Regions from separate parts of the Homo sapiens genome. Here region 1 is linked to region 2. A link means that fine-mapping ties the variant in region 2 to the expression of a gene that starts in the linked region. Tissue or cell type: whole blood. Region 2 holds a variant in brackets; the other region holds the start of a gene. All regions are shown on one strand. Distances are from middle to middle.

Region 1 (5,146 bases), 190 kb before region 2:
AGGATGCAGTGCAGGGGGCAGATGAGGGCTAGGCGGTTGCCCTGGGCCCTCACACTCGTAGCGGAGCTAGGCTGGGACACCCAGGGTGGGGACCAGACCTCCCCGGGTGGGAATGACAGGATGTCCATGGAGGCTGAGTGTGAAAGCACCACGGTCTCACCCCTGTCCTGTTCCATCCCAACAGGCTGTGGTGAGGAGAGGGGGAGGCAGGGGAAGCGGGAGGCCTGGCCTCCAGGCAGCAGGCTATAGCCACATGAGTGACCACCAGCAGCTCAGGTAACTGAGCACATGTCACGGGTAGGCCTGGGAAGCGCAGGTCTCAGCTGAATGACCTGGGTGGAAATCCGACTCCAGAGCCGTGGTGGGTCACACCATGCAGAATGAACCAGTGATGGAGAAGGAACCACAGTCCTCAGGAAGAGTGAGGGTGCACCTCCAGACAGCCCATGTGAGGGCAACCGCAGAAAGTCTGAAAAGAGGTGAACCCCACCTTTGGTGTCACATGTGCAGTGTGGTGTGACAGGGAGGGGCTCGCTGGGCTTCAGCCCCGGCACTCTCCACTTGACCTCAGCAGCTCCAGGTAGAGTGGGGAGAACTCAGCGTCTCCTTCTAGAACAGGTTCTAGGATCCATCACTGAAATGAGGATGAGGTGGTTTTAACATCATTTTATCACTCTTGATTTAGTTTATTAATCATACATGATTATTGATTATAATTGTTGCTGGGCATCCTGAGGCCTCAGAAGTTCACCCTTTGCCCTGACCCCATGGGGGCCCTGCCCCCGCCTTCCGGGAAGGACAAACACGGGAAGAGGTCAGTGCCCGAGCCACCCCACCGCCCTCCCTTGGGGCCTCATTGCTGCAGACGCTCACCCCAGACACTCACTGCACCGGAGTGAGCGCGACCATCATGTCCATGCTCGTGGTCTTTCTCTTGCTGTGGGGTGAGGCCTCCTGGGGTCTGGGTCCCTGGGGCGGGAGGGGGCGGGAACAGGAGCCTTACGGGGGCTGTCTCCGCAGGTGTCACCTGGGGCCCAGTGACAGAAGCAGCCATATGTGAGTGCAGGGGTGAGGTCTGGGAATGGTGGGCCCAGGCCGGGGGGGAGCCCTGTCTCTGTGGCACTGAGCTGATCCCAGCCACCCCTTGCAGTTTATGAGACGCAGCCCAGCCTGTGGGCAGAGTCCGAATCACTGCTGAAACCCTTGGCCAATGTGACGCTGACGTGCCAGGCCCACCTGGAGACTCCAGACTTCCAGCTGTTCAAGAATGGGGTGGCCCAGGAGCCTGTGCACCTTGACTCACCTGCCATCAAGCACCAGTTCCTGCTGACGGGTGACACCCAGGGCCGCTACCGCTGCCGCTCGGGCTTGTCCACAGGATGGACCCAGCTGAGCAAGCTCCTGGAGCTGACAGGGCCAAGTGAGCCGGGGCATGAATTGGGGGCCAGGAGGCAGTGGGTAGGTTGTTGACTGGGGGGTCTCCCTTCCTCCAAGTCACCCGATGTCTCTGAGCCCCAAGCCCCAATCTTCCCATCTGTCAAATGGGGATGATGTCTGTGTTGTAAGGAATACATGGTTGTGTCCCCAGCAGGCCCGGCATGCCGTACAGCTCCCACACACTCTTTTTCTCTTGCCGTATGCCTTGTTTCCACTGGTGCCTGCCTGCCTTTTCCCAGCAATGCCCTCCATCCCTGTCTCCTTCACAGTCTTATGAGTGTGGGGCCCAGGTTCTGCTGGGCTTCCCACGTCTCCTGTTATGCAGAAGCACTCTTCAACTCCACCCCACCCACAGAGTCCTTGCCTGCTCCCTGGCTCTCGATGGCGCCAGTGTCCTGGATCACCCCCGGCCTGAAAACAACAGCAGTGTGCCGAGGTGTGCTGCGGGGTGTGACTTTTCTGCTGAGGCGGGAGGGCGACCATGAGTTTCTGGAGGTGCCTGAGGCCCAGGAGGATGTGGAGGCCACCTTTCCAGTCCATCAGCCTGGCAACTACAGCTGCAGCTACCGGACCGATGGGGAAGGCGCCCTCTCTGAGCCCAGCGCTACTGTGACCATTGAGGAGCTCGGTGACTGTGGGAACCATCTCTGGGGGCTGCTGGGGGAGGAGGATACAGGGGGCATGACCACATTCATCCTGACCTCCATGCTGAATGTCCTTGCCCAGGACCAGGTCCAGGAAGCTGGCCACACGGTTGCCTGGGTCTGATGGTTGCAAAGGAGTTTGGGCAGAGGATGCCCAAAGAATGGAAGGGTGAGGCCGGGTGCGGTGGCTCACGCCTATAATCCCAGCACTTTGGGAGGCTGAGGCCAGCGGATCATGAGGTCAAGAGATCGAGACCAGTCTACCCAACATGACGAAACCCCGTCTCTACTAAAAATACAAAAATTAGCCAGGTGTGGTGGCAGGTGCCTGTAGTACCAGCTACTCAGGAGGCTGAGGCAGGAGAATCCCTTGAACCTGGGAGGCAGAGCTTGCAGTGAGCTGAGTGGCGCCACTGCACTCCAGCCTGGGCAACAAGAGCGAAACTCCGTTTCAAAAAAAAAAAAAAAAAAGAATGGAAGGGTGTTCCTGGGATTGCCACCCGGAGGGCAGAGGTCTGGGGACTGGGCAGAGGGCAGCTCCAGGGATGGGGCAGCCTAGTAATGCTGCCTGCATTGCAGCTGCACCACCACCGCCTGTGCTGATGCACCATGGAGAGTCCTCCCAGGTCCTGCACCCTGGCAACAAGGTGACCCTCACCTGCGTGGCTCCCCTGAGTGGAGTGGACTTCCAGCTACGGCGCGGGGAGAAAGAGCTGCTGGTACCCAGGAGCAGCACCAGCCCAGATCGCATCTTCTTTCACCTGAACGCGGTGGCCCTGGGGGATGGAGGTCACTACACCTGCCGCTACCGGCTGCATGACAACCAAAACGGCTGGTCCGGGGACAGCGCGCCGGTCGAGCTGATTCTGAGCGATGGTGAGCCGGGGCCAGCAGGGACAGGGACGCGGCTGGGTCCCTGGGGAGCAGGAGCAGTACCAGGTGTAGAGTCTGGGGAAGTGCAGTGCTCTGGGCCAGGGTCCAATACCAACTTTATCCGCCCACCCGCCGATTCAGGGTCCTAAACTGCAAATATGATGATGAGCGTGACAACCTTCAGGCCCCACAGGGAATAACTGGGTGAACAGGTCTGGCCCAGGCCACAGGGGGCACCACCTGGCAGGTCCCATCCCAGCTGCCAGGTCTAGGTGAGCACTGAGGGCCTCTGCTGAGGCAGCTCCTCCGCTCGCTTGCCTTGGACCTGATGGTATTTAGCAAACTCTGAGCACCGGACAGCGAACCCCATGCCCAGCGGACCACAGGGGCCCCTCCGTGGGGCGGGCATTGGGGCGGTGCTCAGAAGACGCTCGTGGAGCAAATCCACTACTGAGCGGCATCGTGCACCAGGCATCAAGCCATGCACAAAACATGTCCCCGTCCCCGCTTCCCGTCTGTGTCTGTAGACAAACAAATTACTAAGAAACAGTGAAAGGGTGCGTGTGAGATATCCAAGGACTGGGATGCAAAGGTGGGGCGGGCCCGGAGGAGGCGAGGGAGGAAGCTGGCCAGGTCATTGCGGGCAGAAGACTCAGCCAAGGCAAAGAGCGCGAGGCCAGACCACGCGTTAGGGCCGAGCCAGCCGCTGGGCGCCCGGGTCAGCCCGTGTGCTGCTCCGCAGAGACGCTGCCCGCGCCGGAGTTCTCCCCGGAGCCGGAGTCCGGCAGGGCCTTGCGGCTGCGGTGCCTGGCGCCCCTGGAGGGCGCGCGCTTCGCCCTGGTGCGCGAGGACAGGGGCGGGCGCCGCGTGCACCGTTTCCAGAGCCCCGCTGGGACCGAGGCGCTCTTCGAGCTGCACAACATTTCCGTGGCTGACTCCGCCAACTACAGCTGCGTCTACGTGGACCTGAAGCCGCCTTTCGGGGGCTCCGCGCCCAGCGAGCGCTTGGAGCTGCACGTGGACGGTGAGCTGGCGGGGCACCAGCGAGGGCGGGCGCGGGTTCAGTGCCCCTCGGGGCCTCCTGTCTTTCCCCTCTTTCCTTGGGCGTCCGACGGCGGCGCTCTGGGCCTTGGTTCAGCCCCCATCGCCTACCCCGGCGGGGAGCAGGCGATCGGTGGTCGAGGGTCTGGGGACGCCTGGAATTTCGGCTTATTTCCCACGGACGCAAGCCCGTAGGTCACGTGTAGCGTGGTGGTCGGCAGCAGGGAGGCTGGCCCCAGGTTTTCTTGTTCAGATCCCTGCAGCTCTGTGGCTGCCTTGTTTTATTACTGGCCATGTCAGTCGTCATACTGGACCCCCCGCCCCGGCCCCGGTCCCGCAGGCGCACGGCTGATGTGTCCTTCTCCCCATCCCCGCCGTCCCCAGCTCTGTTTGTCCCTCTGATTTCCTCATCGACGTCTCCAGGACTCAGAGCCCAGCAGAGCGTGAGGGCACAGGTCTGACCTCCAGATCTTGAGGTCGTACCCTTTGCTGGGAGCACCGTTTTCTCTTTTCTTTCACTTTCTTTCTTTTCTTTCCTGCCTTCCTTCCTCTTTCTTTCTTTCTCTTTCCTTCTTTCTTTCTTCCTTCCTTCTTTCTCTCTTTTCTTTCTTCTTTTTTCTTCTTTCTCTCTCTCTCATCTCTGCCCCCCAACCCCATCTCTCTCCTTCATTCCTCCCTTTTCTTCTCCTTTTTGTTTTTTTTTTGGATAACTTACTTTTATTCTTGCAGGCCGGAGTGCAGTGGTGCAGTCTCAGCTCACTGCAACTTTCGCCTTCTGGGTTCAGGCAGTTCTCCTGCCTCAGCCTCCTGAGTAGCTGGTATTAGAGGCGCATGCCACCATGCCCACCTAATTTTCGTATTTTTAGTAGAGACCGGGTTTTGCTATGTTGGCTGGGCTGGTCTTGACCTCCTGACCTTGTGATCTGCCCGCCTCTGCCTCCCAAAGTGCTGGGATTACACTTGTGAGTCACCATGCCCAGCCTATTCTTGCAGTGTTATAAGCCACCATCCACAATTGATGAAAAATGTTTAATCTTGGCCAGGCAAGGTGGCTCACGCCTGTAATCACAGCACTTTGGGAGGCCAAGGCGGGTGGATCACAAAATCAGGAGTTCAAGAGCAGCCTGGCCAACATGGAGAAACCCTGTCTC
Region 2 (5,146 bases):
TCACATGGCAAAAGAATTTTTACAGATGTGAATAAATTAGGAATCTTGAGATACAGAGATTATCCTGGATTATCTGAGTGGGCCCAGTGTATTCACAAGGATACTTAAATGTGGAAGAGGAAGATAGAAGAGTCAGAATCAGAAAACGAGTTTTGATGATGGAAGCAGAGGTTGGAGTGACTCAGGGCCATAGACCTAGCAATGTAAGTGTCCTTTAGAAGCTGGAAAATGGAAGGCATGTATTCTCCACTCATGCCTCCCAAAGGAAAGCCAACCCATTTTGGATTTCTGACCTCCAGAACTATAAGATAATAACTTTATTTTGTTTTAAGCCACTAAATCTGTGGTAATTTGTTACTGCTAGGAGTCAGCAAACTATAGTTTCCAGGTCTGGTCCCGTCTGTTGCCTTTTTGGGGAGGGGATGGCTTATGAACTAAGAGTAGTTTTTATATTTTTTAAAATTCTTTTTTTTGTTGTTTTGGCTGGTCAAACGAAGCAGTGGGAGTGGAGAAGAACAAAGAAATCTGTAACTGGTTGTGATCAATTAATTGTAGTTTTTACATCTTTTAATAATTGAAAATAAAGGAATAATTATATTTTGTGATGTGAAAATTATATGAAATTCAAATTTCAGTGTCCATGAAGTTTTTTGTTTGTTTGTTTGTTTGTTTGAGACGGAGTCTCACTCTGTCACCCAGGCTGGAGTGCAGTGGCACGATCTCAGCTCACTGCAACCTCCACCTCCTGGGTTCACTCCATTCTCCTGCCTCAGCTTCCCGAGTAGCTGGGACTACAGGCGCCCACCACCACGCCTGGCTAATTTTTTGTATTTTTAGTAGAGACAGGGTTTCACCGTGTTAGCCGGGATGGTCTCAATCTCCTGACCTCGTGATCCGCCCACCTTGGCCTCCCAAAGTGCTAGGATTACAGACGTGAGCCACCGCGCCTGGCCCATAAAGTTTTTTTATTTTTATTTTTGTAGGGATGGGGTGTCACTTTGTTGCTCAGGCTGGTCTTGAACTCCTGGGTTTAAGTGATCCTCCCACCTTGGCCCCCAAAAGTGTTGGGATTACAGGTGTGAGCCACCACACTCAACTGTCCATAGGTTTTACTGAAATACAGCTCTGCCCATGTATTATGTATAGTCAATAGCTGCTGTTGTGCTACAACAAGGTTGACAGTTGCAACAGAGACCATATAGTCCCCCAAACCTAAAATATTTACTGTCTGGTCCTTTACAGAAAAAGTTGTCTTCCCTTGTTGTAAGCTGCTATGTTTTTGTTTTTTGTTTTTGTTTTTGTTTTTGTTTTTGAGACGGAGTCTCGCTCTGTCGCCCAGGCTGGAGTGCAGTGGCGTGATCTCGGCTCACTGCAAGCTCCGCCTCCCGGGTTCACGCCATTCTCCTGCCTCAGCCTCTGAGTAGCTGGGACCACAGGCGCCTGTCACCACGCCCGGCTAATTTTTTGTATTTTTAGTAGAGATGGGGTTTCACTATGTTAGCCAGGATGGTCTCAATCTCCTGACCTCGTGATCTGCCTGCCTCGGCCTCCGAAAGTGCTGGGATTACAGGCGTGAGCCACGGCGCCTGGCCCGTTTTTGTTTTTGTGACAGTCTCACTCTGTTGCCCAGGCTGGAGTGCAATGGTGCAATCTTGGCTCACTGCAACCGCTGCTTCTGGGGTTCAAATGATTCTCCTGCCCTGGCCTCCCGAGTAGCTGGAATTACAGGTGCGCAACACCATGCTTTGCTAATTTATTTTAGTAGAGACAGGGTTTCACCACGTTGGCCAGGCTGGTCTTGAGCCACCGTGCCTGGCCTAAGCAGCTATGTTTTGGGGTAATTTCTTACAAAGCAGTGGATAATTAACACAGAACCTCTTCCTGTTCCTTGACTTGGGACTAAAACACATGAGACTAGCTTTAGCAAACAGGATGTTAGCTCATGTGGTGTGAATAGAGGTGTGAGGTATGCCCCCCAATAAACCTTTTGCAGTTCCAACTCCTTCTCAGTATCTACTGATCTTTTTTTTTTTTTTTTTTTTTTTTTTTTGAGACGGAGTCTCGCTCTGTCGCCCAGGCCGGACTGCGGACTGCAGTGGCGCAATCTCGGCTCACTGCAAGCTCCGCTTCCCGGGTTCACGCCATTCTCCTGCCTCAGCCTCCCAAGTAACTGGGACTATAAGTGCACACCACCAAGCCTGGCTAAACAAAAAAAATTTTTTTTTAAATTAGCCAGGCATGGCCAGGCACGGTGGCTCACGCCTGTAATCCCAGCACTTTGGGAGGCCGAAGCAGGCAGATCATTTGAGGTCAGGAGTTCGAGACCAGCTTGACCTACATAGTGAAACCCCGTCTCTACTAAAATACAAAAATTAGCCCGGCGTGGTGGCAGGCGCCTGTAATCGCAGCTACTCATGAGGCTGAGGCAGGAGAATCGCTTGAACCCAGGGGGCAGAGGTTGCAGTGAGCCGAGATCGCACCACTGCACTCCAGCTTGGGCGACAGAGTAAGACTCCCTCTCAAAAAAAAAAAAAAAAAAAA[AT/T]TAACCAGGCATGGTGGTGCATATGCCTGTAATCCCAGCTATTTGAGATGCTGAGGCAGGAGAAATGCTTGAGCCCAGGAAGTTAAGGCTGTAGTAAAGTATGATTGCGCCACTGCACTACAGCCTGAATGACAAAGCGAGGTGAGGTTCTGTCTAAATAAATAAATAAATAAGAAGGCTTACTTACAGACTCTTGCTGGTGGCCTGAAAAAAGGAAGCTACTGTGAGCTCTACAGCTGCAAAGAAATGGATTCAGGCGGGGCGCGGTGGCTCAGGCTTGTAATCCCAACACTTTTGGAGGCCGAGGCAGGTGGATCACCTGACGTCAGGAGTTCGAGACCACCCTCAACACGGAGAAACCCTGTCTCTACTAAAAATACAAAATTAGCCAAGCATGGTGGTGCATGACTATAATCCCAGCTACTCAAGAGGCTGAAGCAGGAGAATTGCTTGAACCTGGGAGGCAGAGGTTGCGGTGAACCGAGATCGCGCCACTGCACTCCAGCCTGGGCAACAAGAGCTAAACTCCGTCTCATAAAAAAAAAAAAAAAAGAAAGAAAAAAAAGAAATGGATTCAGCCAACTGAATGAACATGAAAGTAGATACTTCTATAATCAAGTCTACAGATGGGAATGAAGCCAGCTGACAGCTTGATTGCTACCTCTGGAGATCCTAAACAGAGGGCCTAGTTAAGCTATGCCCAGACTCTTGACTCACAAGAACACTGAGATAATAAATACACGTGGCTTTCCCCACGAGGCGGAGCCCGCAGTGAGCCGAGATCGTGACACTGCACTCCAGCCTGGGCAACAGAGCACAACTCCATCTCCAAAAAAAAGAAAAAAAATGTGGTTTTTAAGCTGGTAATTTTGTGGTAAGTTGTTACACAAAAACAGTGAACAGGCCAGGCGCAGTGGCTCACGCCTGTAATCCTAGCACTTTGGGAGGCCGAGGCAGGCAGATCACGAGGTCAGGAGTTTTGAGACCAACCTGGCCAATATGGTGAAACTCCGTCTCTACTAAAAATACAAAAAATAGCAGGGTGTGGTGATGCGCCCCTATAGTCCCAGGTACTCGGGAGGCTGAGGCAAAAAAATTGCTTGAACCCAGGAGGCGGAGGTTGCAGTGAGCTGAGATTGTGCGTGTCTGGAAATGGTGGGTTCTTAGTCTCACTGACTTCAAGAATGAACCCACAGACCCTTGCAGTGAGTGTTACAGTTCTTAAAAGCAGCGTCTCTGGAATTTGTTTCTTCTGATGTTTGGATGTGTTCGGAGTCTCTTCCTTCTGGTGGCTTCATGGTCTCCTTGGCTTAGGAGTGAAGCTGCAAACCTTGGTATTGACTGTTACAGCTCATAAATGCAATGCGGACCCAAAGAGCAAGCAGCAGCAAGATATATTGCAAACAGCCAAACAACAAAGCCTCAACCATGTGGATGCAGACCCCAACACGTTACCACTGGGGGCTCGGGCAGCCTGCTTTTATTCCCTTATCTGGCCCCACCCACATCCTGCTGATTGGTCCATTTTACAGAGAGCTGATTGGTCCATTTTGACAGGGTGCTGATTGGTGCATTTACAATCCCTGAGCTAGACACAAAAATTCTCCAAGTCCCCACTAGATTAGCTAAACACAGAGCACTGATTGGTGCATCCACAAACTCCTGAGCTAGACACACAGTGCTGATTGGTGTGTTTACAAACCTTGAGCTAGATACAGAGTGCTGACTGGTGTATTTACAATCCCTTAGCTAGACATAAAGGTTCTCCAAGTCCCTACTAGACTCAGGAGCCCAGCTGGCTTCACCCAGTGGATCCCGCACAGGGCCGCAGGTGGAGCTGCCTGCCAGTCTCGCGCCTTGCGCCCGCATTCCGCAGCTCTTGGGCAGTTGATGGGACCTGGCGCTGTGGAGCAGGGGGCGACGCTCGTCGGGGAGGCTCCGGCCGCGCAGGAGCCCAGGGCGGGGGTTGCGGGGAGGCTCAGGCATGGCGGCCTGCAGGTCCCGAGCCCTGCCACGCGGGGAGGCAGCTAAGTCCCGGCGAGAAATCGAGCGCAGCGCCGGTGGGCCAGCACTGCTGGGGGACCCAGCGCACCCTCCGCAGCTGCTGGCCCGGGTGGTAAGCCCCTCACTGCCCGGGGCTGGCGGGGCCGGCTGGCCACTCAGAGTGCGGGGCCCGCCCAGCCCACGCCCATCCGGAACTCTAGCTGGCCCGCAAGCGCAGCGCGCGCAGCCCAGGTTCCCGCCCGCGCCTCCTCCCTCCACACCTCCCGGCAAGCTGAGGGAGCAGGCTCCGGCCTCAACCAGCCCAGACAGGGGCTCCACAGCGCAGTGGCAGGCTGAAGGGCTACCCGAGCATGGCCAGAGCATACGCCGAGGCTAAGGAGGCACCAAGAGCGAGCGAGGGCTGCCAGCACGCTGTCACCTCTCAGTGCCACTGCACTCCAGCCTGGGCAGCAGAGCAAGACTCCGTCTTAAACAAACAAACAACAACAGAAAACAACAGAGACATGCAAAGCTTAGAGAACATGAGTATCTGCTGGGTGAACGTGGGTGGCGGTGACCTTCTCACACTGATGGTAGAAGACGTATGAAAGGAAATTTCAT

Evidence for each region. PIP is the estimated chance that this variant, and not a neighbour inherited with it, causes the effect.
Region 1: it holds the start of A1BG-AS1, and the variant in region 2 is fine-mapped to the expression of A1BG-AS1 in whole blood (INTERVAL, PIP above 0.99).

The regions. Positions count from the first base shown.
Region 1 is chr19:58,349,202-58,354,347 of GRCh38, reverse strand. It overlaps A1BG-AS1 (A1BG antisense RNA 1), which reads right to left and starts at 2,378. Exons shown (of 4, transcript NR_015380.2): 1 at 1,304-2,378; 2 at 874-969; 3 at 491-634. It overlaps A1BG (alpha-1-B glycoprotein), which reads left to right and starts at 856. Exons shown (of 8, transcript NM_130786.4): 1 at 856-944; 2 at 1,021-1,056; 3 at 1,151-1,420; 4 at 1,793-2,065; 5 at 2,661-2,957; 6 at 3,697-3,978. The coding sequence starts at 911.
Region 2 is chr19:58,156,952-58,162,097 of GRCh38, reverse strand. The region is part of intron 1 of LOC124904784 (a long non-coding RNA gene); the gene reads right to left. Among named protein-coding and RNA genes, the nearest start is that of ZNF329, 8.7 kb to the right of the region's middle. The variant AT/T (reference allele first, on the strand shown) is at 2,542.